Regions from separate parts of the Homo sapiens genome. Here regions 1 and 3 are each linked to region 2. The links come from fine-mapping of genetic effects on gene expression. A gene starts in region 2. Each other region holds a variant in brackets. All regions are shown on one strand. Distances are from middle to middle.

Region 1 (8,167 bases), 26 kb before region 2:
AGGAATTATGATGCCCATTTTTTTGATTAAAAAAAAAAGTGAAGCTCAGAGAGATGGTCAGTTTCCCGGAAGCACATGGCCCATCCGTGGCAGAGCTCCCATAGGCCAGAGTTGTCTAATGCCTGGGAGTTCCCTTTCTCCTGCCACCATCTTGCTCCTAGAGCAGCTGGCTCCATCTTCCCAAGAAGGGTCACACTCACTCTTGGCAGTTGCTGTTGTAGCTGAAGACACATTTCTGAAGACTGTCCAGGGTCATGAGGCTGATATGCTCAAACATATCAAGGGAGACCGCTGAGCCCTCTGCCAGATGCCGCCATTTAGCCTGGAAGAGAGATACATGGTGACTGTGCATGGAAACCACAGAGAGGGAGTCAGCCTAACAAGGACCCGACTGCGTTTTCACTACAAGCTCATTTTATAGATAAAGTCAGTGAGGGCTCCTGACATCACATGGCTTGCCCATGCATGAGTTGGAGCCTGGACCAGCCTCACTCCCAAGACACCCTCTTCCCTCAAAGCCTTAGGACTCACATGCATAATGTCAGCGCTCTGGTTGAAGATCTTCATGTAAGGCTTCAGGATGTCAAAGTGGAAGGCGGGTGTCAGCAGGCGACGGTGCCGGCTCCACTTGTCACCTTTGCTGAGCAGCAGCCCATCCCCTGGGCCCAGAAGACTGAGGTTAGGGACCTCTCCTGTTACTCTGAAACCTTCCAAGGAACCCCATGCTCTTCCCTCTCTTCTCTAAAGCCCCAGCCCCAGCCTACCCACTGGGCACTCACCTAGCCAAGGTTTTAGGAAGCCATAGAAGAGGTCATCCTTGGGGGCGATGGCAGCTGTGGAGGGCAAAGGGAAAATGGTGACTCAAAACAGAGTTTTTTGGTTTTTTGTTTTTTTTTACGGAGTCTTGCTCTGTCATCCAGGCTGGAGTGCAGTGGTGCGATCTCCACTCACTGCAACCTCCGCCTCCCAGGTTCAAGCAGTTTTCCTGCCTCTGCCTCCTGAGTAGCTGGGATTACAGGTGTCCGCCACCATGCCCGGCTAATTTGTTTGTATTTTTAGCAGAGACAGAGTTTCACCATGTTGGCCAGGCTGGTCTCGAACTCCTAACCTCAAGTGATCCACCCACCTCAGCCTCCCAAAGTGCTGGGATTACAAGCACGAGCCATCGTGCCTGGCCTCAAAACAGAGTTCCAACCCTTGACCTTTGCTTATGACTTCCTTAGTCCTCCTCACTGGGCTCCAACCTCCCACTGTATTCACCCAGTCCGTCCTCCACACCTACCCGAGAAAAAATCCTTATAAAACACTGATCTGAACATGAGCCTCCCCTGCTCAGACACCTCCCATGGCTCCCCATTGCACTTGTAAAAAGTTCAGGCTCAGCCTGGCATTGAAACCCAATTCCATCTGGCCCCTGTATGCCTCTCCCACCACCTCATCCTTCAACATACACCAGATAACCCTATTCTCATCGCCTGCTGTGGATCACCTCTGAACCTTTGACCAGGTTGAGCTGTCTATCCAGAATGGACTTCTTCACCTGAGTCTTCCCCTAATCCACCCCCTTATTTTCTGCCAGCTCAGGCCATCTGAATCACACCTCCTGTGCTCCCAGCCTCCAGCCTCACCCTCTCCAGTGTGTCCCTCATGAATGGCCCCAGGAGAATCTCATCTGACTATCAGATCTGACCACGCCCCTTCCTGCTCACACACCCATCACCCTCACATACCAGCCCATTTTCAAAGCCCTGAATCATTTGCCTTTGTCCAAATCTCTCTCAAGACACCTCTGTCTTCCACCCCCTATTCGACGTCACAGAACTAACACCACATAACTTTTTGTTTTTTGTTTTTTTGAGATGGGGTCTCACTCTGTCACCCAGGCTGGGGTGTGTGGTGAGATCATAGCTCACTGCTGCCTCCAATTCCTGGATTCAAGCGATCCTCCCACCTCAGCCTCCCGAGTAGCTGGGACTACAGGCATACGCCACCATGCCTGGCTAATTTTTTAATTTTGTGTATGGACAGGGTATCGCCATATTGCCCAGGCTGGTCTTGAACTCCTGAGCTCAAGTGATCCTCCAAGTTCAGCCTCCCAAAGTGCTGGGACTACAGGCATAAGCCACCATGCCCGGCCACACCACAGAACTTTTCTCAGCTCCTTAAAAAGACCACGTGCTCTCTCTTCTCTGAGACTTTCCACCAGCTGTTCTCTCTGCCCCAAACACTCTTCCCTCATCCTGTATGAGAACTTGAATGCTTCTCCCCACCCCTGACCCAGCAGTCACTCTGGATTGTATCCACTTAGTTACAAGCCCCTTAACAGGAGGGTTCGTGTTGATTACTGATATGTTGTGCTAGATAAATTTTTATTAAATGAATAAATAAGTCAATCCAAGGATGGATGAATGAAAGAATAAATGGGTGGATGGATGAGTAGAGGGACAGATGAGTACATGGATGGATAAATAAGTGGATGGATGAATAGCAGATGGATAGATGGTGGGTGGGTGGATGGATGGATGGATGAATGGATGGATGGGTGGATGGTGGATGGATGGATGAGTGGATGGATGGATGAATGAGTGGATAGGTGGAAGGTGGATGGATGAATGAATGAATGAGTGGATGGATGAATGGATGGATCCTCCTTCTATATACTGAACAGATTTGGGGCTGAATGGGCAGAGGCCCAGGAAGGAAGTATCTGAAATTCGAGTGATATCACTTTTACCTGAATGCGACTCAGCCACCTACACCGACACAATCCCTAGGAATTGGCCAATTGCCTACACAATCATCCGCCCACTCATCCCCCCATTCATCACACCTCTTATGCTGCCTTTCTGTGCCCAACCCAAGCTGGGTGATGCTGGGGACCCACAGATGGCTCAGCTCTATGCCCTCCCTGGAGGAGCTCCTGAGTGGGGCAGGAAAGGGAAGCAGAGACACACCATGCAATTACCAAGAAGGTAGAAAGTGTGCTAGGTGCTAAGGAAGGCTCAGAAAAAGGGCTGTTGGAAGTCAGGGCAGGCTTCCTGGAGGAGGCAGCATTGAAGAGGAAAGCAGGAGTCTAGTCACTCCTCTCCTCTCTGCACTCTGGACTCCAAGATAGGCTCCACAGGGATCTTTCTGACACCAGGATCTGGTCAATAGCTGTCTTGTTCAAATACTTCCCGTGGCTCCCTATCACTCCCAGGATAAAGTACAAGTTCATTCACTTTGCTGTCCAGTTCCTGCTTAACTGTCAGTCTCATTTCCTATTCCCCCCAACATATCACCTTCACTCCAGCCACCCTAAATCACCTGAATTCCCCTGGAATTTTCACACATCTGCATCAAGGCACTGGCAGGACCTTCCATCTGGGACTCCTTCTCTGGCAAGCTCCTAGGCATCCTTCGGGGCCCAGCTTCACTGACACCTACTCCAGGAAGCCTTCTCCAAACCCCCTTCTCAGCTGAACCATTGTTCTCTCATCCTCAGGTTCCTTTTCCACTCCAACTCTGACCACAATGCCAGGAAAGTCTGTGTCCACGCTCCTCACCAGTTTTCCCCTCCAGCAAAAAGGAGATGGTAGGCCAGGTGCAATGATTCACACCTGCAGTCCTAGCACTTTGGGAGGCAGAGGCAGGAGGATCACTTGAGCCCAGAAGTTCAAGACCAGCCTGGGCAACACAGCAAGACTCTGTCTCTACAAAAATGTTTTTTAAAAAGAAAAAAAAAAAGAGGGAGAGATGGTAATGCCTACCATGGATGAGACGGTGTACGAAATACCCCCACATGGTGCCAGCATGGAGAAACTCATGCTCAGAAAGCTGCATATCACTATGTTTGAGAGCTTGGGTTCTGGGCCAGCCAGGTCTGAGTTCAAATCCCAGCCCTGCCACTAACTAGATATGTAAGCCTGGACATGTTACCACTGCCAAAGGAGAAAATAGAACAATCTTGCCTCATGGCATCCCTATAAGACTCAACAAGCTCTTGTGTTCCTGGCACATGGTAGATGCTCATTAAATACGTGCGTAGGTAAATGAATAATTGACCAACTGTTGGCTATTTTTATTACTATGGTTAAAATGATTATTTATTGGCATCAAGAACTTGTGAGATAAATAGTTGTGTTTCCTGTTAGTAGAAAATTAATGCACACCCTCTGTGGAAAACAGCAAGGTGGCTCCTTAAAAAGTTAAGTACAGAATTCCATATGACTTGGCAATTCTACTCCTAGGTATCTACCCAAGAGAGAAATGAAAACATATGTCCACCCCAAAACTTGAACACATATGTTCATAGTAGCATGATTCACAACATCCAAAAGGTGAATGGGTAAACAAAAAAAAATCCATACAGTGAAATGAATTCAGCCCTAATGACCAACCTGGACAACATAGCAAGACCCCATCTCTACAAAAATAAAAATAAAAATTAGCTGGGCATGGTGGTGCGTGCCTGCAGTTCCAGCTACTCGGGAGGCTGAGGCAGGAGGAGAATCACTCGAGCCCAGGATTTCAAGGCTGTAATGAGTTATGGCTACACCACTGCACTCCAGCCTCTGGGTGACAGGGTAAGACCCTGTCTCAAAAAAAAAAAAAAAAAAAAAAGAATGAAACTGATTCCTACTACAACGTGAATGAACTTCAAAAACATTATGCTGAGTAAAAGAAAACAGACACAAAAAGATCACATTTTATGTGGTTCTCTTTCTATGATGTACCCAGAATAGGCAAATACATAGAGACAGAAAGCAGATT[C/T]GAGGTTACCAGCGGATGGGAGGAGGAGGGAAATGGGAAGTGATTACTCAATGGGTACAGAGTTTTTTTATGAGGTGACTAAAAATTTTGAAACTGGAAAATGCTGGTGGTTGCCCAACATGGTGAATACACTAAATACCACTGATTGTTCACTTGTAAATGGTTAATTATATGTTACATGAATTTCACCTCCATTTTAAAAAGATGATATAAAAGCAAGCTACAATTATATGTCTATATATCATCATGTTCTCTATAAAGCATGTTTATCTACTTTCTCTCATTAAAATTTCCTAGTCCAAAGGCCCATAAGATGATGGGGAAACTGAAGCTCCAACAGGAGCTGGGCCCTCCTCCAGGCTCAAGGGCTGTGCAGCTCCAAGCTCAGAACAGCAAGCCACTCCCAGGTGTGGCCCCAGGAGGTCCTGATCCAGGGTGGTGTCTGTGACTGGAGCCTGATCTGTGTAATTCCAGGTGGGGGCACCCTGGGGCCAAGAGGCCTCACTCCAGGCTGACTCACAGCACCACCCTTTTTTCCATCCTGGAGTTCCCTATCTGGCTTCTCTGATGGGGTACACAGAATATCCCCTCCCTCCACTGGATGAGGGGAGGGCAAGAGGCTTAAGCATCTACTACATGACAGCCCCTGCTGGGGCACTACTCCTCGGTCTGTTTGGAGTCTCAGAACCAGGCAGGATGGTGCTCAGGAAACTGATGCTCTGAGGGGGAGGAGAAGGGAGGAGGAAGGAGAAAAAAGAGAGACCAGGCGCTGTAGCTCACGCCTGTAATCCCAGCACTTTGAGAGGCCAAGGCAGGAGAATCACTTAAGGTCAGGAGTTCAAGACCAGCCTGGCCAATATGGTGCAGCCCCGTCTCTACTGAAAAAAAAAAATACAAAAATTAGCCAGGTGTGGTGGTGCACACTTGTAGTCTCAGCTACTCGGGAGGCTGAGACAGGAGAATCACTTGAACTCGGGAGGCAGAGGTTGCAGTGAGCTGAGATCATGCCACTGCACTCCAGCCTGGGTGACAGAGTGAGACTCTGTCTAAAAAGAAGAGGAAGAAAAAGAAGAAGGTGGAGGAGGAGGAGGGGGATGGGGAGGAGAAGAAGGAGAAGGAGGAGAAGGAGAAGAAGAAAGAAGTAGAAGGAGGAGGAGAGAAAGAAGAAGAGAAGGGAGGAGGGGGAAAGAGGAGTAGAGAGAGAAGTAGAAGGAGGAGGAGAAGAGGGAGGAAGAAGAAAGGAAAGGAGGAAAAGAGAAAGAAAAACATATATTAAAAAGGCAGAAGAGAAACCCTTACTAATGCCTATCCATATTATTTTTTTTTTAATTTTTTTAGAGACAGAATCTCACTCTGTTGCCCATGCTGGATGCAATGGCACAATCATAGCTCTCTGCAGCCTCAACCTCTTGGACTCAAGCAATCCTCCTACCTCAGCCTCCTAAGTAGCTGGGACTATAGGCACGCACCACCACACCTGGCTAATTTTTTAAATTTTTTGTAAAGATAGAGTCTTGCTCTGTTGCCCAGGCTGGTCTTGAACTCCTGGGCTCAAGTGATCCTCCTGCCGTGGCCTCCCAAAGTGCTGAGACTGCAGGCATGAGTCACTGCACGTGGCCTCTTATCCACATTATATTATTCAGGCTTCACAACTGCACCCATTTTACAGATCAAAACCTGAGATCCAGAGAGGCTAGATAAATGGCTGGGGTCTCACAGCAAGCATGTGCCAAGGCCAGAATTTGAAGCCAACCCACCTCAGTCCTGGCCCAGGGCTCTTCCCACAAGTTGGTATTCATCCCTCAGAAGAGTCAATTCTCCCTCCCAAGGTCTAGGTTTTCCCCTTAGTTCAACAGGGATCGTCATCCCTTCACAAATGTAATAACGGGAGACAACAAGGCATTGAGAGGGAATAGCTGTGGAAGGGGAAGATGGCAGCTTCTTTCACAGCTCCTGGGTGGCAGCCCTGGAGATGGTCCCCAGATGCGTGTTTGTAGAGGCAAAGCTGGGACAGAGATCCTAAAATTCCTGGAATCTCCCACTTTTTTTTTTTTTTTAAGAGACTAAGCCTTGCTCTGTCACCCAGGCTGGAGTACAGCAGTGGTGCAATCATAGCTCACTGCAGCCTCCATCTGCTGGGCTCAAGCAATCCTCTCACCTCAGCCTCCTGAGTAGCTGGGACTGCAGGCATGCACCACAACACCCAGCTAATATTTTTAAATGCTTTTGTACAGATGGGGTCTTGCTAGATTACCCAGGCTGGTCTTAAACTCCTGAGCTCAAGTGATCCTCCCATCTCAGCCACCCAAGTAGCCGAGACTACAGGTGCACATCACTGCCACTGGGTAATTATTTATTTTTTTCGAGAGACAGGGTCTTGCTGTGTTGCCCAGGCTAGTCTCAAACTCCTGGCCTCAAGCAACCCTCCTGCCTCAGCTTCCCAAAGTGTTGGGATTACAGATGTGAACCACCATGCCTGACCTACTGGAGCTCATTGGTTCATTTGAGAGTGAGTTCTCTCAGATGTCCCGATACCTCTGGAGGTGCCCAGGTAATATGGTTTGGCTGTGTCCCATCTAAATTTCATTTTGAATTATAATTCCGATAATCCCTATGTGTCATGCGAGGGATCCGGTGGGGGGTAATTGAATCATGGGGGCGGTTACCCCCATGTTGCTGTTCCCATGATAGTGAATGAGTTCTCACGAGATTTAACGAATTTCCCCCTTTTACTTGGCACTTCTCCTTCCTGCTGCCATGTGAAGAAGGACGTGTTTGCTTCCCCTTCCGCCATGATTGTAAGTTTTCTGAGGCCTCCCCAGCCCTGCGGAACTGTGAGTCAATTAAACCTCTTTCCTTTATAAATTACCCAGTCTAGGGTAGTCCTTCATAGCAGCGTGAGAACTGACTAATACACCAGGTACACAAGGCCACACTGAGGATCCAGAGTCCCGCTCATGAGGAAGATAGAGCTGGACACAGACATACCCAGGTCCAAAGGGTTAGGACTGAGAATAGGTCTGTCTGGGAAGCCAGGGAAAGATTCCTGGAGGAGGCGGCCATTGGAGCTGGGTGTTGAAGGCTGAGCAAGAGCTTGCCAAGCAGACTTGGAAGTCTCACATCTTGGGATAGGTGTGGACTGCACGAGGAAGAAGGAATTCTTCCACATCTCCCTCCCTGCCAGTCAGAGTCAGCCCAAGTGATGACAGCAGGCTGCAGGCTGAGTCACCAAGAGTCCTGGCCATAATGGGAATGTCAGAACCAAATGATGGGCGTGCCACGGCCAGGGATTGAGTAACACTTACTTAACAAAACCATAAGGAACAACTGCCTATCCAAACGTGCCTGGCTCTGACTGCCAGATGGATGGACATTCCCTCGAAGTTTCTGGAACTCTTAGTCATTGCCACATCTT
Region 2 (8,180 bases):
AGCGACTGGCTCCGTGTCCCGGCCCACGCCCAGGTCGCGCTGGTTTGTCAGGTTGGCCCAGCCGTTCACCCACTGAGGACTTGTTATACAAGGTGTGTGGGCTCCCAAGAAGGAGTGGAGGGCACGGACCCAGGCCGACGCCAGGTACGAGATACATGCCTCTTCTTGAACTGCAGGGGCTGGGACCAGCCAGGAGCCTGATGGAAGAGCACCCCAACGCTGGCCCCATCACCCCAAATCCCAGCCCTCCTTTTCACTCCAAGCCTGTAGTCAAGGCAGCCTGCCCCCGTCCCCACTGATTCATGGTGCCACCTTGGCTTCCTCAACATCAGAGGGCTGGCTTACCCCAGAGACTCACATATTCCCCCAAAGTGCCAGACCCCAGAAGGCTGGAGCTGAGAGGGGACTTCTAAGTTGTTTTGTTGTTGTTGTTGTTTGTTTGTTTTGTTTTTTAGACATGGTCTTGCTGTGTCCTTCAGGCTGGAGTGCAGTGGTGTGATCTTGGCTCACTGCAACCTCCCCGTCCTGGGCTTGAGTGATCCTCCCACCTCAGCATCCTGAGTAGCTGGGACTACAGGCGCCTGCCACCATGCTCAGCTAATTTTTTTTTAATTTTTTTGTTAAAAAAAATTAATATAGTGCTGGGCGCGGTGGCTCATGCCTGTAATCATGCCTGTAATCTCAGCACTTTGGGAGGAGGGAGGATCACCTGAGGTCGGGAGTTCGAGACCAGCCTGACCAACATGGAGAAACCCCATCTCTACTAAAAATACAAAATTAGCCAGGCATGGTGGCACATGCCTGTAGTCTCAGCTACTCAGGAGGCTGAGGCAAGAGAACAGCTTGAACCCGGGAGGCAGGGGTTGCAGTGAGCCAAGATCACGCCATTACACTCCAGCCTGGGCAACAAGAGCAAAACTCCATCTCAAAAAAAAAAAAAAAAATATATATATATATATATATATGGTATCCCTATATTCCCCAGGCTGGTCTCAAAGTCCTGGGCTCAAACCATCCTCCAGCCTTAGCCTCCCAAAGTGCTGGGATTACAGGCATGAGCCACCACACTCAGCCTGGCTTCTAGGTCTTCAGTCTCCACTCAGCACTCTAAATTTCTAAGGTTCTGAGAAAGAGCTTCAGAGTCATTTATGACTAATGAGGGCAGGGCCAAGTTGGCAAATGTGGTAAAGGAGACAGTCCTATCGCAGCTTTGATCATATTCAAACCTTTTGCTAATAATTTCCTTGGCCCAAAGGGGATCCTGGCAGAAAAAGAAGTTTTAAAACCACTAATAATCTAGACCATTGCAGGGTTGTAATTGTTTCTGCCCACCATCCCAAGTGTGGCCACACCTGGACATGAGCCTCAGAAAAGATTCTATAAAGGTCTGCCTCTTTGCTGTGCGACCTCGGGTGAGTGTCTGCACCTCTCTGAGCCTCAATTTCTTCATCCATTAAGACAGAAGCCCTATTTACCCACCTCATGGGGCTGCAATCTTCCAGGCACATAGTAAGCCTTTGATCAATGATATCTCTCATTACCGTTGGTGCTGCCATCACGTTCATTATTGTGACCTGGCCATCTGGGGTTTGGAGAATCAGGTCCAAGTTTTATCAACAAGGAGAGATGAGTCAGGCGCAGTGGCTCATGCCTGTAATCCCAGCACTTTGGGAGGCTGAGGCGGGTGGATCACTTGAGCCCAAGAGTTCAAGACCAGCCTGGGCAACATGGTGAAACCCCATCCCTACCAAAAATACAAAAAGTAGACAGGAGTGGTGGTGCATGCCTGTAGTCCTCCATACTCAGGAGGCTGAGGTAGGAGGATTGCTTGAACCCAGGAGATCGAGGCTGCAGTGAGCTATGATTATGCCACTGCACTCCTGCCTGGGTGACAAAGTGAGACCCTGTCTCAACAACAACAACAAAAAAAGAAAGAAAGAAAGAAAGAGAGAGAGACAGAGAAAAGAAAGAAAGAAAGAAAGAAAGAAGGAAGGAAAGAAAGAAAGGAAGGAAGGAAGGAAGGAAGGAAGGAAGGAAGGAAGGAAGGAAGGAAGGAGAGATGGGTCCCATTCCCTGAATGCCTCTCAAGTCATCCAAGCCCCTCTGCAGATACCAACCTGGGTCACCGCCAGACACCAGGCCAGAGTTAATGTTACTGTTCAGAAACCCAAGCTGGGCCATTTGGTGATGCCGGGGACATCGGAAAGTGGACTGAGGCTTTGGGGTCAAACAGGGCTTGTTTTTTCAAATCCCAGCTCTCCCACTGGGCACTGGGTATCCACAGGCACAGGCTTCTTCTCTCTGGCCCTCAGTTTCCGTGCCTGTAAAATGAGGGTGGTAGGGAAGATTTGGGGAGGTTCCTTCTCTTTGGGGTTTGGAGTTACACAAGAAGGAGTTTGATGCTGCCAGCCCTGGCTGGGCACAGCTCCAGGACCTAGAAATAAGGGGTGGAGCAAGGGGCACAGGGTAGGAGGAATTTCGGGTACGCAGCCAGCCCTGGCCATCTCCTTTGCCTACAGGGCGGTGAGACTCACAATGAGTGCATGAATGAGCTGTGAGCGGGCAGATGAACCAGGAGAGATGCCCTGAGCCTAGGCCTCTCCAGCCTGCGACTCCCCAGGTGGCCAGCCTCGGCCAACTTGCATACCCAGGCTGGGCCAGGCCCCTGGGAGGCCAGAAAACATCTTCCTTCCAGCATCTATCAGACGAAGATCACCTGGGACCAACCCCAGGACCTCACACAACCCTCAGAGCCAACTCTCGGGGCCAGAAGAACACCGTCTTTTCATAGAGGGGCTCTGCGTCTGGCATGGATGGGCAGAGGGTTCCTGATAGCAGTTGAACCACAAGCCTAACCCCATCGGTTGAATGTACTACAACCTCCCCGTCAAGACAACGTGCAGTGGTGAAATCTCAGGGCGAATCCCCATTCAGCCCCAAAGAGGCGTCCCAGGGCGGGGCTTGAACCCATCTGGGATGTCCTGACTACCAGAGGGGTCTTTTGGAGGCCCCCTGCCCATCACAGATACCCAGAGAAAAGGATGCGCCTAGGACTCCGAGGCGCACACAGAAAAAAAAAAAAAGAAAACAACTCACAAATGCAGCAAACGTCGGGGACACACCCACGTGCCCCTCTCCCCACGAGTGCCCCGGGCATGCAGCCCCGTCCTGGGTCCTGGGGGGGTCCCCGTGGCCGGCTGCGCCCCGCCCGCCGCCGCGCGCAGACCTTCGCCCTTGCCCCGCCAGCACCGAACCGCGCGAGCCTCGGGTTCCAGCGCAGCGCCGCGGCCGCGCTCAGGTTACAGCCCTCACCACGCGCGCACTCACCCGCGGGTCTCAGCCTCCTGCCCTCGATCCGGATCCACCGGCGCCACTACCTGGGATCTGACCGCGCCGTCCCACGGCCCAACCCTTTAACCCCGCCCGGCCGTGCCGAGGGGTCCGCCCCCGGACATCCCGCCCCGGGCTCCCGCAGGGTTCTGGGCGGGGACTCCAGCGCTGCCCCCTAGAAAAGGAGAGAACAAGAAATAGGCGTGTGGAGGGGTGGAGAGCGATGGAAAGAGAGAGAGACTGAGACTGAGATGGAGAGATGAAGAGAGACAGAGACTTGGACACCTAGAAGTCCCAAACCATCAGGCTCCCCGCCCTCCTGCCACTGCTGGGCCGCATTAGCGCCCAAGTCCCGCTCTGGACCACACTCCTCCCACACCAACACCCCCCATGGCCCTTACTTCCAGGTTTGCTCCCAAGCTTGGACAGCGATCTCTAAACCATCACCCCCTGGGGCCCCACTGACCCCCCCGAGAAGCCTCCTCTGGGGCCCTCAGGAATTCTCTGGCTCCACCAGCCCTTGGGAACCAGCCCTTCCCCTCTCTCTGGATCCTGGGCCTAAGCTTCCCCGGCACCCACCCCTGGAGGCTCTGCAGCCTCTTCCTCCAGGAAGACCTCCAACCTCAACAAGCAGCACCAGACTGGTTCTGCTCCCCGCCAACCCGCCCTCCGCCACTCCTCCCCACCCACTGCCAGACACCTTGACCCTCTGACCAGGATGTTGTCCTTGGCCAACCCGTCTACTCCAGATGTGTGGAGACAGAGTCAGCTCCGCCTCTGGATGTGTCTGTCCTCCGGAGTCGGTGGGTGGATGTGTGGCTGACCTTAGCACGTGGGCAGACAGATGAGAAGACAAGAATCTCCACTTGCCCCAGCAGGTGGTAAACTTAGAAGACTTCCTTATCCCTCTTTTTTCTAAGAATACGCTCTCATTTGGTGCTGGGCCCTTGGAAAGAGGGCGTGGGAGGTGTGGGGCATGTCTCCTGGTGAAGAAGAGGAGACACAAGTAATTGAAGTTTTGCTGCTTGGAGGAGGCAGACATGAGGTCAGGGAAGGCGACGTGGAGGATGTGACACTTGAGCTGGGACTGCATGGAGAGGTTGGATTTCAACAAGTGCAGGAGAGGGGGTAGAGCTCAAGCACAGAGAAACTGGAGGGTGTGACTTAGCAGATGGCTTTCCCTGGCCTTGGAGTGTGAGAGGTGTGGAGGCTGGAGGGATGCAGGAGTTGACTGTGAAGGCCAGTTTGAATGGCTGGATCTTGATCTGGTGGGCAGTGGGGAGCCATGGATGGTGCTTGAGTAGGGGAGGTGCCCCCTGTTAGTTGATTGGTCTCACTCTGTCATCCAGGCTGGGGTGACTCCTGGGCTCAAGCCATCCTCCTGCCTCAGCCTCCTGGGTAGTTGGGACTACAGACACGTGCCACCACACCCAGCTAATTTTTTTTTTTCATTTTTTTAGAGACAGGGTCTCACTATGTTGCCCAGGCTGGTCTCAAACTCCTGGGCTCAAGCCATTCTCCCAGCTCCTAGAACTTTTAAAAAAAAATATTTATATTTATTTGTGTCTTTAATCTTTTTTACTTCTGAGGAAGAGCTTATTTTATTAATTTTTTATTCATAATTAACGCAGCATGAAAGCCTATTTTTTAGGGATATGAATTTTGTTTTGCCAGTAATTCTGGCCAAGGGGGAGCTTACTAGAAGCACTTTGGAAAATGCAGAGATCCACATAGAGTGAAGTTTGAGAGGGACCCCTCCAGTGGCTGCAGGGGACAGAGACAAAGGGTGGGGGTAGCTGAGACCCAGGAAGGGGTTAAGGATGAGGTCCCGGAGGTCATCTCCACTGACCACTGGCTAAATACGGGGTTCTAGGGAAGAGAGAAGGAAAAGAAGCCATCTGCCTGGCTTCTCTGCTCTCAAAGAGCTGGAGACCAGGAAGGAGGAGTAAGTGAAAGGGCCTGGAGCACTAAGAGTGGGCTTCGTGGATGTGTGGCCTTGAGCTAGTCACATGGCTGCTCTGAGCCTCCATCTCCCTATGCATAAAATGCAGAAGAAGCCCATGTGATGAGGTGGTGTTCAGCCCCACTCCTGGCACAGGGCACAGGCTGGACAAACATCAGCTGTTTGAGTTTGCAGTTGATTGGGGCCATCCCAGCAGAGTAGAGTTTTCCGCCAGGGAATGTTTAGCAACATCAGGAGATCATACTGCTGGGTGGGGGGTAGAGGTGGGGGTGGGGGAATTCAGGGTGGTGCAACTGACATCTAGTGGGTGAAGGCCAGAGATATTATTCAACATCCAGAACACCCCCACCCCCAAAGAATAATCCAGGCTCAAATGTTGACAGTGCTAAGATTGGGAAACCGTGGGTCACCTTCAGTCTAAAAGTCTCGTGGGTCTCATGGGATGACATTCAGGGAGACATCCAGGAGGCAGTTGGGCTCAGCGTGAGGGCACCTCCTGAGAATTGCATCTGTGAGTCACCTGCCTTGGGAAGACGGTGGATGGCATGGCAGTAGGTCAGCGAGATCACTCAGGAGGGAGGTGGGCAGAGAAGAGGAGGGGAGGGCAGAAGTGGGGATCACAGCCACTTTTTTTTTTTTTTTAAGATGGAGTCTCACTCTGTTGCTCTGTTGTCCAGGCTGGATACAGTGGCACAATCTTGGCTCACTGTAACCTCCGCCTCCCGGGGTCAAGCGATTCTCCTGCCTCAGCCTCCCGAGTAGCTGAGACTACAGGTGCCCACCACCAAGCCCGGCTAATTTTTGTATTTTTAGTAGAGACGGGGTTTCGCCGTATTGGCCAGGCTGGTCTCAAACTCCTGACCTCAAGTGATCCACCTGCCTTGGCCTCCCAAAGTGCTGGGATTACAGGCATGAGCTGCCGTGCCTGGCCTTTTATTTTATTTTTTAATCAAACAGAGTCTTGCTCTGTCACCCAGGCTAGAGTGCAGTGGTGCTATCTTGGCTGACTGCAACCTCCACCTCCCGGGTTCAAGCAATTCTCCTGCCTCAGCCTCCTGAGTAGCTGGGATTACAGGCTTGCACCACCACGCCCGGCTAATTTTTGTATTTTTAGTAGAGACAGGGTTTTGCCATTTTGGCCAGGCTGGTCTCAAACTCCTGACCTCAGAGATAATAGCTACATTTATAGAGAGGACAGGCAGCAGCACTGAGCTGGAGCTGGAGATGGAGTTTGAGAAGAGTGGTAGTAGGGACCATCACTGGCACCTAGACGTCAAGGAACCCAAGCTCTAGAGCTGTGTGGTTCCCATGCCACCAGAGCCCTCAGCCTGCCACAGCCCAGGGCTCAGTGGGGTGAGGTTGAAGTGGGAGGGGAGGAAGTGGAGGCTGTGGCTGGACTTGGGAAATGGTAGTAGAAAGCTGTCTGGGAGTGGATGTGGCAGGTCATGGCAGGGAGTCAAAGATAAAAAGAAGAGGGATCTCGCCATACCCTGCTGGTGGCAACGTAAAATGGTTCAGCCACAGTGGAAAACAGTTTGGGAATTTCTCAAAAAGCTAATCAGAATTACCATAGGACCCAGATATTCCACTCCTAGGTATACACACACAATAACTGAAAACAAGTACTTGCCAGGTACAGTGGTCTACAGCTGTCATCTCAGCACTTTGGGAGGCTGAGGCAAGAGAGCATCACTTAAGCCCAGGAGTTCCAGACTAGCCTGGGGAACAACATAGCAAGACTTCATTTCTACAAAATATAAAAAATTAGCTGGACATGATGTGCGTACCTATAGTCCCAGCTACTTGGGAGGCTGAGGTGGGAGGATAGACAGCTTGAGACTGGGAGGCTGAGATTGCAGTCAGCTGAGATTGTACCACTTCACGCCAGCCTGGCTACAGAATGAGACCCTGTCTCAAAAAAAAAGAAAAAGAAAGAAAGAAGAGACAGAGAGAGAGAGAGAGAGAGAGAGAGAGAGAGAGAGATAAAGAGAAAGAAAGAGAAAAGAAAACAGTTACTCACACGTAATTGTAGAGGAGTGCTCGGGATAGCACGATTTATTATAGCCAAAGGTGGAAACAACCCAAATTCCACCAACAGATGAATGGATAAACAAACTGTGGTCCATCCATACAATGGAATATTACTCAGTCATAAAAAAGAATAAAGGCCGGGCGAGGTGGCTCTTGCCTGTAATCCCAGCACTTTGGGAGGCCGAGGCAGGTGGATCACCTGAGGTCAGGAGGTTGAGCCAGCCTGGCCAACATGGTGAGACCCTGTCTCTACTAAAAATACAAAAATTATCTGGGCACGGTGGCGGGCACCTGTAATCCCAGCTACTCGGGAGGCTGAGGCAGGAGAATCGCTTGAACCCGGAAGGCAAAGATTGCAGTGAGCCAAGATCGCACCACTGCACTCCAGCCTGGGGGACAGAGTGAGACTCCGTCTGAAAAAAAAAATACAAATAAAAATAAATAAAACCCTGATCCATGCCGCAATGTGGATGAGCCTCATAAACATTGTGCTGAGTGAAAGAAACCAGACACAAAAGGTCACACAGTGCATTATTACATTTATATGAAATATTCAGACTAAGTGAATTCACAGAGACAGAAAGTGGAGTAGTTGTTGCCAGGGGCTGGGGGAGGGGGGATGGAGAGAGAAGCCCATACCCAGGGGGAGTGGTTATAGGACCTCCTTTTGGGGTGACAAAAACACTGGAACTAGATAAAGGTGATAGTTGCACAACATTGTGAATGCACTAAATGTCACTGAATTCTACACTTTAAAGGGTTAATTTTATGTTATGTGAATTTCACCTCAATTTTTTTTTTTTTTTTTTTTTTTTTTTGAGACAGAGTCTCACCTGTTGCCCAGGCTGGAGTGCAG
Region 3 (8,180 bases), 36 kb before region 2:
CTATCCCATCTGCAGGGATAGTGCACCTGGGGCAGGCATAGCCAGGCCCCTGTGGACAATAGAGCAGCTACATCATTGGAGGCAGTGCACCAGCAGCAGGCGGAACATGGTAGGCACCTTTGGGGATGATGCGCCCATCTGGGAGCTTGATGTCCTCCGTGCATTGGCGAGAGACAAGAGTGACAGGTGGGTACTGGCGCAGGCTCTCCTTAATGCACATAGTTGTAAAGGGCAGCTGAGTCAGATCGTCCCTGGGGAGAATGGAGATATAACTAGAGGCCGAGCCACCATGGCACCACCTCCCCAAAACACACACACACACACACACACACACACACACACACACACACACACACTCTCTCCCTCTCTCTCTCTCTCTCTCTCTCTCTCAGGGGCAGCTGGGCAAGAAACCAGTCCAGGATTTTAGACTTGCCCCAATTTCTGCCATTTGCAGTTGTCTCATGCACAGGTGGGAAGTACTAATATTTAGTGGTTTTTTTGTTTTTTCTTTTCCTTTTTCTTTCTTTTTTTTTTTTAAGACCGAGTTTCGCTCTTGTTGCCCAGGCTAGAACATAGTGGCGCATCTCGGGTCACTGCAACCTCAGCCTTGCAGGTTCAAGCAATTTTCTTGCCTCAGCCTCCCAAGTAGCTGGGATTACAGGCATGCGCACCCACACCCGGCTAATTTTTGTATTTTTAGTAGAGACAGGGTTTCTCCATGTTGGCCAGGCTGGTCTCAAACGCCTGACCTCAGGCAATCCACCCACCTCGGCCTCCCAAAGTGCTGGGATTACAAACGTGAGCCACAGTGCCCGGCCAGTACTAATACTTAGGATGCAAAGTATCTGAGCACCAACCGCTCAGAACAGCACTAGCACTGGGCCCTCTGCTGGGCCCAGCATTAAGCCTTTAATTGATGAATTATGTGGAGGTCCAGGGGCACCTAGGCGAGGTGCCAGGACAGCCAAGGGGACTCACGGCAACAGCAATATGCCAGTTTATATGGTCCATTTCTGTACTTAAAAAACTGCTGCAGGACAGGTGTGGTGGCTCTCGCCTGTAATCCCAGCACTTGCAGAGGCTGAGATGGGCGATCGTCTGAGGTCAGGAGTTCAAGATCAGTCTGGCCAACATAGCAAAACCCCATCTTTACTAAAAAACACAAAAATTAGCTGGGTGTGGTGGCGTGCACCTGTAGTCTCAGCTACTTGGGAGGCCGAGGCAAGAGAATTGCTTGAACCCGGAAGGCGGAGGTTGCAGTGAGATGAGATTGCACCACTACACTCTAGCCTGGGTGACAGAGTGAGACTCTTGTCTTAAAAAAAAAAAAAAAAAAAAAACTGGTGCAGGCCAGGCATGGTGGCTCATACCTGTAATCCCAGCACTTTGGGAGGCCGAAGCAAGTGGATAACTTGAGCCCAGGAGTTCGTGACCAGCCTGGGCAACAAAGAGAGACCCCATCTCTACCAAAAGTTAAAAAATTAGCTGGGCATGATGGCACACACCTGTGGTCCCAGCTACTCAGGAGGCTGTAGTGAGCTATGATCATGCCACTGTACTCCAGCCTGGGCCACAGTGTGAGAGCCTATCTCAAAAAAAGAAAGAAAGAAAAAAAGAAAAAAGAAAGAAAAGAAAAGTGCATTATCTCCTTATAATATCATTTACTTAATATTTTTTCCCTTGGACTTTAGGGCCCAAAATTGGGCTAATGATAACTCTTGGTTCATGTTCTAGATTAGATTAGTTTCTTTAAATTAGCAGGTTCTCTTTCTTTTTTGATGGCGTCTTGCTGTTTCATCCAGGCAGGAGTGCAGTGGCACAATCTCAGCTCACTGCAACCTCTGCTTCCCAGGTTCAAGCAATTCTCACGCCTCAGCTTCTCAAGCAGCTGGGATTACAGGCACACACCAATACGCCCAGCTAATTTTTGTATTTTTAGTAGAGACAGGGTTTCACCATGTTGCCCAGGTTGGTCTTGAATTTCTGGCCTCAAGTGATCCACCCGCCTTAGCCTCCCAAAGTGCTGGGATTACAGGCATGAGCCACTGCACCTGGCCCAGGTTCTCTTTCAAAGAAACTTTATGGCTGGGCACAGTGGCTCACACCTATAATCCCAGCACTTTGGGAGGCCAAAGTAAGAGGACTGCTTGCACTCAGGGATTTGAGAGCAGCCTGGGCAACACAGCAAGTCCCCATCTCTTAAAAAAATGTTAAAAATTAGCCAGTTGTGGTGGCACACTCCTATAGTCCCACCTACTCAGGAGGCTGAGGCAGGAAGATTGCCTGAGCCCAGGAGTTTGAGGCTGCAGTGAGCTATGATTATGCCACTGCACTCCAGCCTGTGTCTTAAAAAAAAATAAACTTCATGTTGCTATAAAGGGCAAACAGCATCCCTGGCATAAAGGTATTCATCCATACAAACACCACTGTGAAAGCAGTAGTGTGTTATTAAATTGTGTCTACACACCAACTCCCACCCAACTCTCTCAACCTGAGACATCTTCTCCACTTGTTTAAAAGGAAGATTAGCAAAGTGTTCAGGACACAGTAGCACCCCACTGAGCATGTCCCCCTGAGGCCATAAGGCAAAAGGTTGAAATAGAACCGAAAGGAACCTCCTCACTGTGTGAGTTGATGCTATTTAATGTTGCGGCTGTGTTTTTCTTCTTTTCTTTTCTTTTCTTTTCTTTTTTTTTTTTTTTTTTTTTTTGAGACAGGGTCTCACTCTGTCACCCAGGCTGGAGTGCAGTGGCGTAATCTTGACTCACCACAGCCTCCACCTCCTGGGTTCAAGCAGTCCTCCCACCTCAGCCTCCCAAGTAGCTGGGACTATAGGCATGCGCCACCCCACCCAGCTAATTTTTGTATTTTTTTGTAGAGACAGGGTTTCGTCATGTTGCCCAGGCTGGTCTCAAACACCTCAGCTCAAGCAATCCACCCCCCTCGGCCTCCCAAAGTGCTGGAATTACAGGCATGAGCCACCACGCCCAGCCTAATGCTGTGTTTTCTTTTCATCACCCAGAATCAGCTCTACATAGCATGAATCTGGTAGAGACTGGGTATGTGTTCTGATTCTCCACTTCCTCCCTGAATTAGAATTATATACCTGTACCCTTTGTCATATGATTCTTCAGTGCCTTCTGCTCAGGTGAGTGGAGTATATGTCCTGCCCCATTCATGCTGGGCTTGGTCACGTGACTTGTTTTAGCCAATGCAATCTTCTAGTGCAAGCACAGCTTTTGTTTTTTTTTTTTATTTTATTTATTTACTTATTTTATCTTTTTTTGTGGGGGGGTGGGGACAGAGTTTCACTCTTGTAGCCCAGGCTGGAGTGCAGTGGTGCAATCTCAGCTCACTGCAAACTCCACCTCCCAGGTTCAAGTGATTCTCCTGTCTCAGCCTCCCGAGTAGGGGGGATTACAGGCACCCATGACCGTACCTGGCTAATTTTTGTATTTTTAGTAGAGATGGGGTTTCACCATGTTGGCCAGGTTGATCTCGAACTCCTGATCTCAGGTGATCCACCCACCTCGGCCTCCCAAAATGCTGGGATTACAGGCGTGAGCCACCCCACCCGGCCCAAGCAAAGCTTTTAAATTTCATGGCTTTTTGTGCTTCTGGAATCTGCCTTGAGAAGAATACGACCCAGGGTAGCCTCTGGTCCAAAGAGAACAGAAAGGGAGTATATGAAGCAGATCTGAACCCAGCTCTTAGTTTTGAAGCAACTCCACTCCACTCAGCCAAGTCCAACAGCAATTAGAGTAATGAGCAGACAAGAGCAAGAAATGTGTGCATACAAAAGCAAGAAACAAATGCTTGCTGTAAACCACTAAGTTTGGGAGCTGTTCATTATGCAGCATCATTGCAATAATTGCTGACTAGGACACTTTGAGAACTTCTGCATTATGAGGTGGGCATAGGCACTATAACCACCCCCATTTTGTAGCTGAAGAAATTGCAATTCAGGAAGCTAAAGTGGCTTGTCTGAGGTCACACAATCAGTAAGTGGGAGAGCAGAGGCTTACACCCAAGGCTCTGGCCTCAACCTGCCCCCTCCATTCCCCTGACCCCACACTCACCACTCCAGCTCCTCCAGCTCCCGGCCTTTCATGACTTCCTGAATCTCTTCTCGGCATTTCTCCTGGTATTCCGGATACTTTGCCAAATTGAACAGCATCCAAGAGATCCCACTGGATGTTGTGTCGTGACCTGCAGGGAGATGAGGGTATCTGAATGGAGGCTGCCTGAAGAAAGCAGAGATGCTGTCTACAGACAATGATGTCCCTTCCTGCCCTCCTCCAGCCTCACCCCACATCCTCACCCTCAAACATGAAGGTGTCTGCTTCGGCTCGGATATCCTCGTCTGACAGTTCCTTTCCATCTTCATCCTGGAATGGGCAGTAGAGGGTGCTCAGCCCACTTCATCCCACCCTCCGCATCCTAGGGGCTCCTCAAAACTCAGATATCTCCCCGCCCCCATCTTTTTTTTTTTTTTTTTTTCTGAGATGGAGTCTCGCTCTATCACCCAGGCTGGAGTGCGGTGGCACAATCTCGGCTAACTGCAGCCTCCGACTGTCAGGTTCAAGTGATTCTCGTGCCTCAGCCTCCTGAATAGCTGGGATTACAGGCACATGCCACCACTCCAAGCTAATTTTTGTATTTTTAGTAGAGATGCAATTTTGCCATATTGGCCAGGCCGGTCTCGAACTCGTGGCCTCAAGTGATCTACCTGCCTCATCCTCCCAAAGTGCTGGGATTACAGACATGAGCTACCACGCCTGGCTCCCCTCTCTCTCTTAAGCCAAGCTGTGGGGGGAACTAGTCCAGGAAGATGGAAGTATGCAACTTGTCTAATAAAGATGGAAAGTGCCCAGCATGGTGGCTCACACCTATAATCCCAACACTTTGGGCAGCTAAGGTGGGAGGATCACTTGAGCCTAGGCGTTCAAGACCAGCCTGGGCAACATGGTAAGACCCCATTTCTACAAAAAAAAAATCAGCCAGGTGTGGTGATGCATGCCTGTAGTCCCAGCTACTGGTGAAGCTGAGGCAGGAGGATTAAGCCCAGGAGATCAAGGCTGCAGTGAACCATGACCGCATCACTGCACCCCAGCCTGTGT[G/A]ACAGAGCAAGACCCTGAGTGAGAGATGCTGGTGAGGCTGTGGAGAAATAGGAACGCTTTTACAAGGTTGATGGGAACGTAAATTAGTTCAACCATTGTGGAAGACAATGTGGCAATTCCTCAAAGACCTAGAACCAGAAATACCACTTGACCCAGCAATCCCATTACCGGGTATACAACCAAAGGAATATAAATTATTCTATTATAAAGATACACGCACACATATGTTCATTGCAGCACTATTGACAATAACAAAGACATGGAATCAACCCAAATGCCCATCAATGAAAGACTGGATAAAGAAAATGTGGTACATATATACCATGCAATATTATGCAGCCATAAAAAGGAACAAGATTATGTCCTTTGCAGGGACCTGAATGGAGCTGGAAGCCATCATCCTTAGCAACCTAAGGCAGGAACAGAAAACCAAACACCACATGTTCCCACTTATAAGTGGGAGCTGAACAATGAAAACACACGGACACAGGGGGGAAACAACACACACTTGGGGGGCCTATCAGGGTGGCAGGAGGAGGGAGAATATCAGGATAAATAGCAAATGCATGCAGGGCTTAATACCTAGGTGATGAGTTGATAGGTGCAGTAAACCACCATGGCACATGTTTACCTACGTAACAAACCTGCACGCCCTACACACGTATCCTTGAACTTTCCATTTAATTTAAAAAAAAATTTTTTGAGATGGAGTTTCTCTCTTGTTGCCAGATTGGAGTGCAGTGGCGCAATCTTGGCTCACTACAACCTCTGCCTCCAGGGTTCAAGCGATTCTCCTGCCTCAGCCTCCAGAGGAGCTGGGATTACAGATGCATGCCACCACGCCCGGCTAATATTTTTTTTTTATTTTTAGTAGAGACGGTGTTTCAATATGTTGGCCAGGCTCGTCTTGAACTCCTGACCTCAGGTGATCCTCCCACCTCAGCTTCCCAAAGTGCTGGGATTACAGGGGTGAGCCACTGCGCCCGGCTTATCCTGGAACTTTAAATTACATTTTTAAAAAACAAGAAAAAAGAAAAGAAAGATGTAAAGAGGGACAGAAAGTCAACAGTGAGGAGAAGAAGGAAGTTCATATTTCTTGAGCAGCCTCCAACACCAAGCATCCCACTGGATGCCTGACAACCTTGTGATCAGGTTTTATGATCACCATGGTATAAATGGAGAAACTGAGGCTTGGGAAGAAGAGTCAATGACTAAGGTCAAACATCCACTAAGCGACAGAGCCAGGACTGGAATCCAGGACTATTTGAATCCAGAACCCAAAAGGTCCACAGACACACCAATGAGTGACCATAGAAGTGTCTCATCTCTTCAAGGTCATGTATTTCTTTTTTTTCTTTTTTTTTTTTTTTTTTGAGACGGAGTTTCACTTGAGTGCAATGGCATGATCTCAGCTCACCGCAACCTCCGCCTCCCAGGTTCAAGTGATTCTTTTGCCTCAACCTCCCGAGTAGCTGGGATTACAGGTGTGTGCCACCACGCCCGGCTAATTTTGTATTTTTAGTAGAGATGGGGTTTCTCCATGTTGGTCAGGCTGGTCTCGAATTCCTGACCTCAAGTGATCCACCTGCCTTGGCCTCCCAGAGTGCTGGGATTACAGGTATGAGCCACCACGCCCAGCCCAAGGTCATGTATTTCATTTTTGCAATTGTGATGAGCTGAATGGTTCCCTGCCCACCCCCCCTCCGCTAGAATTCATAAGTCCTAACTTCCAGTACCTCAGGCTATGACCGTGTTTGGAGAGAGGTCTTTGCAGAAGTAATCAAGACAAAATGAACTCATTAGGGCAGGGCCCTAATCCTTATACAAAGAGACGAAGACAGAGACAGGCACAGAGGGAAGATGATCCGCAGACATAGGGAGAAGACAGCCTTCTGCAAGCCAGGGAGCAAGGCCTGGAACAGATTCATCCTTCATGGGCCTTAGAAGAAACCAGCCCTGCAGATACCTTGATCTTGGACTTCTAGCTTCCAGAACTGTGAGAGAATAAATGGCTGATGTTTAGGCCATTTAGTTTGTGGTACTTTGTAATAGCAGCCCAAGAAAACTCACGCAGTAAGTCTTACATGTTCTGACCCCATCCCAGACCCATGTGAATTTCTTTTTGTTTTGAGCATGTGTATTGTTTTGTTTTGTTTTGAGACAGAGTCTCGCTTCTGTTGCCCAGGCTGGAGTGCAGTGGCACCATCATAGCTCACTGCAGCTTCCAACTCCTGGGCTCAAGCCAGACTCCTGCTTCAGCCTCCCAAGTAGCTGGGACCATAGGCATGCGGCACCACACCCAACTTATTTGTTTTTTGTAGAGACAGGGTCTCCCTGTGTTGCCCAGGCTGATCTCCAATTCCAGGGCTCAAGCGATCCTCCCGCCTTGGCCTCCCAAAGCGCTGGGATTACACGTGTGAGCCACCACGCCTAATGGAGTTTTAACACTTATCATTTTACATGCAATTCCTCGGGAGGCCAGCCCTCGGGAGGCCAGCAATTCCAGGGGGCCCAGCCTCACCCTGGCCAGGAGCAGCACATCAATAAAGTCCAAGGTCTTCCCCTGCTTGGCCTTAAGCCAGGCCTCGGCCCCCTGCTGACGCAGTGCCCGCCGCCGTTCCTGGATGACTTCAGTGGTGAAGTGGTGCACCATGTCACAGGCCTGCCGGAACCTCCGCCCATCCGCCGAGCGGTAGTAAATGAAGTCGAGGTAGTGGTGCAAGCGATACTGGCGCCGGACAGACAGAGCGCTCAGTTCAATGATAGCGGAGATATAATCACTCATCTTCCTGCCAAGGAGAAGGGGATCCATGAGTGTAGCCCCTTCCCCTAGCATAGCACAGCCCTGGCTTGGCTAAGATAAGCCTCCTGTCCCCATTGAATAGATAACAAAGAGAAGCCCTATATTAACTCTATTTTTAAATTCATTTATTTATTTTTTTAGATAGGGTCTTGCTCTGTCACCTAGGCTGCAGTACAGTGGCACAATCATAGCTCACTGCAGCCTTGAACTCGTGAGCTCAAGTGATCCTCCAGCCTTGGCCTCCCAAAGTGCTGGGT

The links. PIP is the estimated chance that this variant, and not a neighbour inherited with it, causes the effect.
Region 1: its variant is fine-mapped to the expression of CYP4F22 in whole blood (TOPMed, PIP above 0.99).
Region 3: its variant is fine-mapped to the expression of CYP4F22 in whole blood (TOPMed, PIP above 0.99).

Annotation. Positions count from the first base shown.
Region 1 is chr19:15,530,027-15,538,193 of GRCh38, reverse strand. CYP4F22 (cytochrome P450 family 4 subfamily F member 22) reads right to left here. Exons shown (of 14, transcript NM_173483.4): 5 at 780-833; 6 at 532-659; 7 at 201-322. Among named protein-coding and RNA genes, the nearest start is that of CYP4F22, 26 kb to the right of the region's middle. The variant C/T (reference allele first, on the strand shown) is at 4,753.
Region 2 is chr19:15,503,731-15,511,910 of GRCh38, reverse strand. CYP4F22 (cytochrome P450 family 4 subfamily F member 22) reads right to left here and starts at 3,386. Exons shown (of 14, transcript NM_173483.4): 1 at 3,328-3,386. RefSeq lists an enhancer at 3,242-3,742.
Region 3 is chr19:15,540,179-15,548,358 of GRCh38, reverse strand. CYP4F22 (cytochrome P450 family 4 subfamily F member 22) reads right to left here. Exons shown (of 14, transcript NM_173483.4): 8 at 7,642-7,909; 9 at 4,322-4,388; 10 at 4,080-4,209; 11 at 118-251. Among named protein-coding and RNA genes, the nearest start is that of CYP4F22, 36 kb to the right of the region's middle. The variant G/A (reference allele first, on the strand shown) is at 5,121.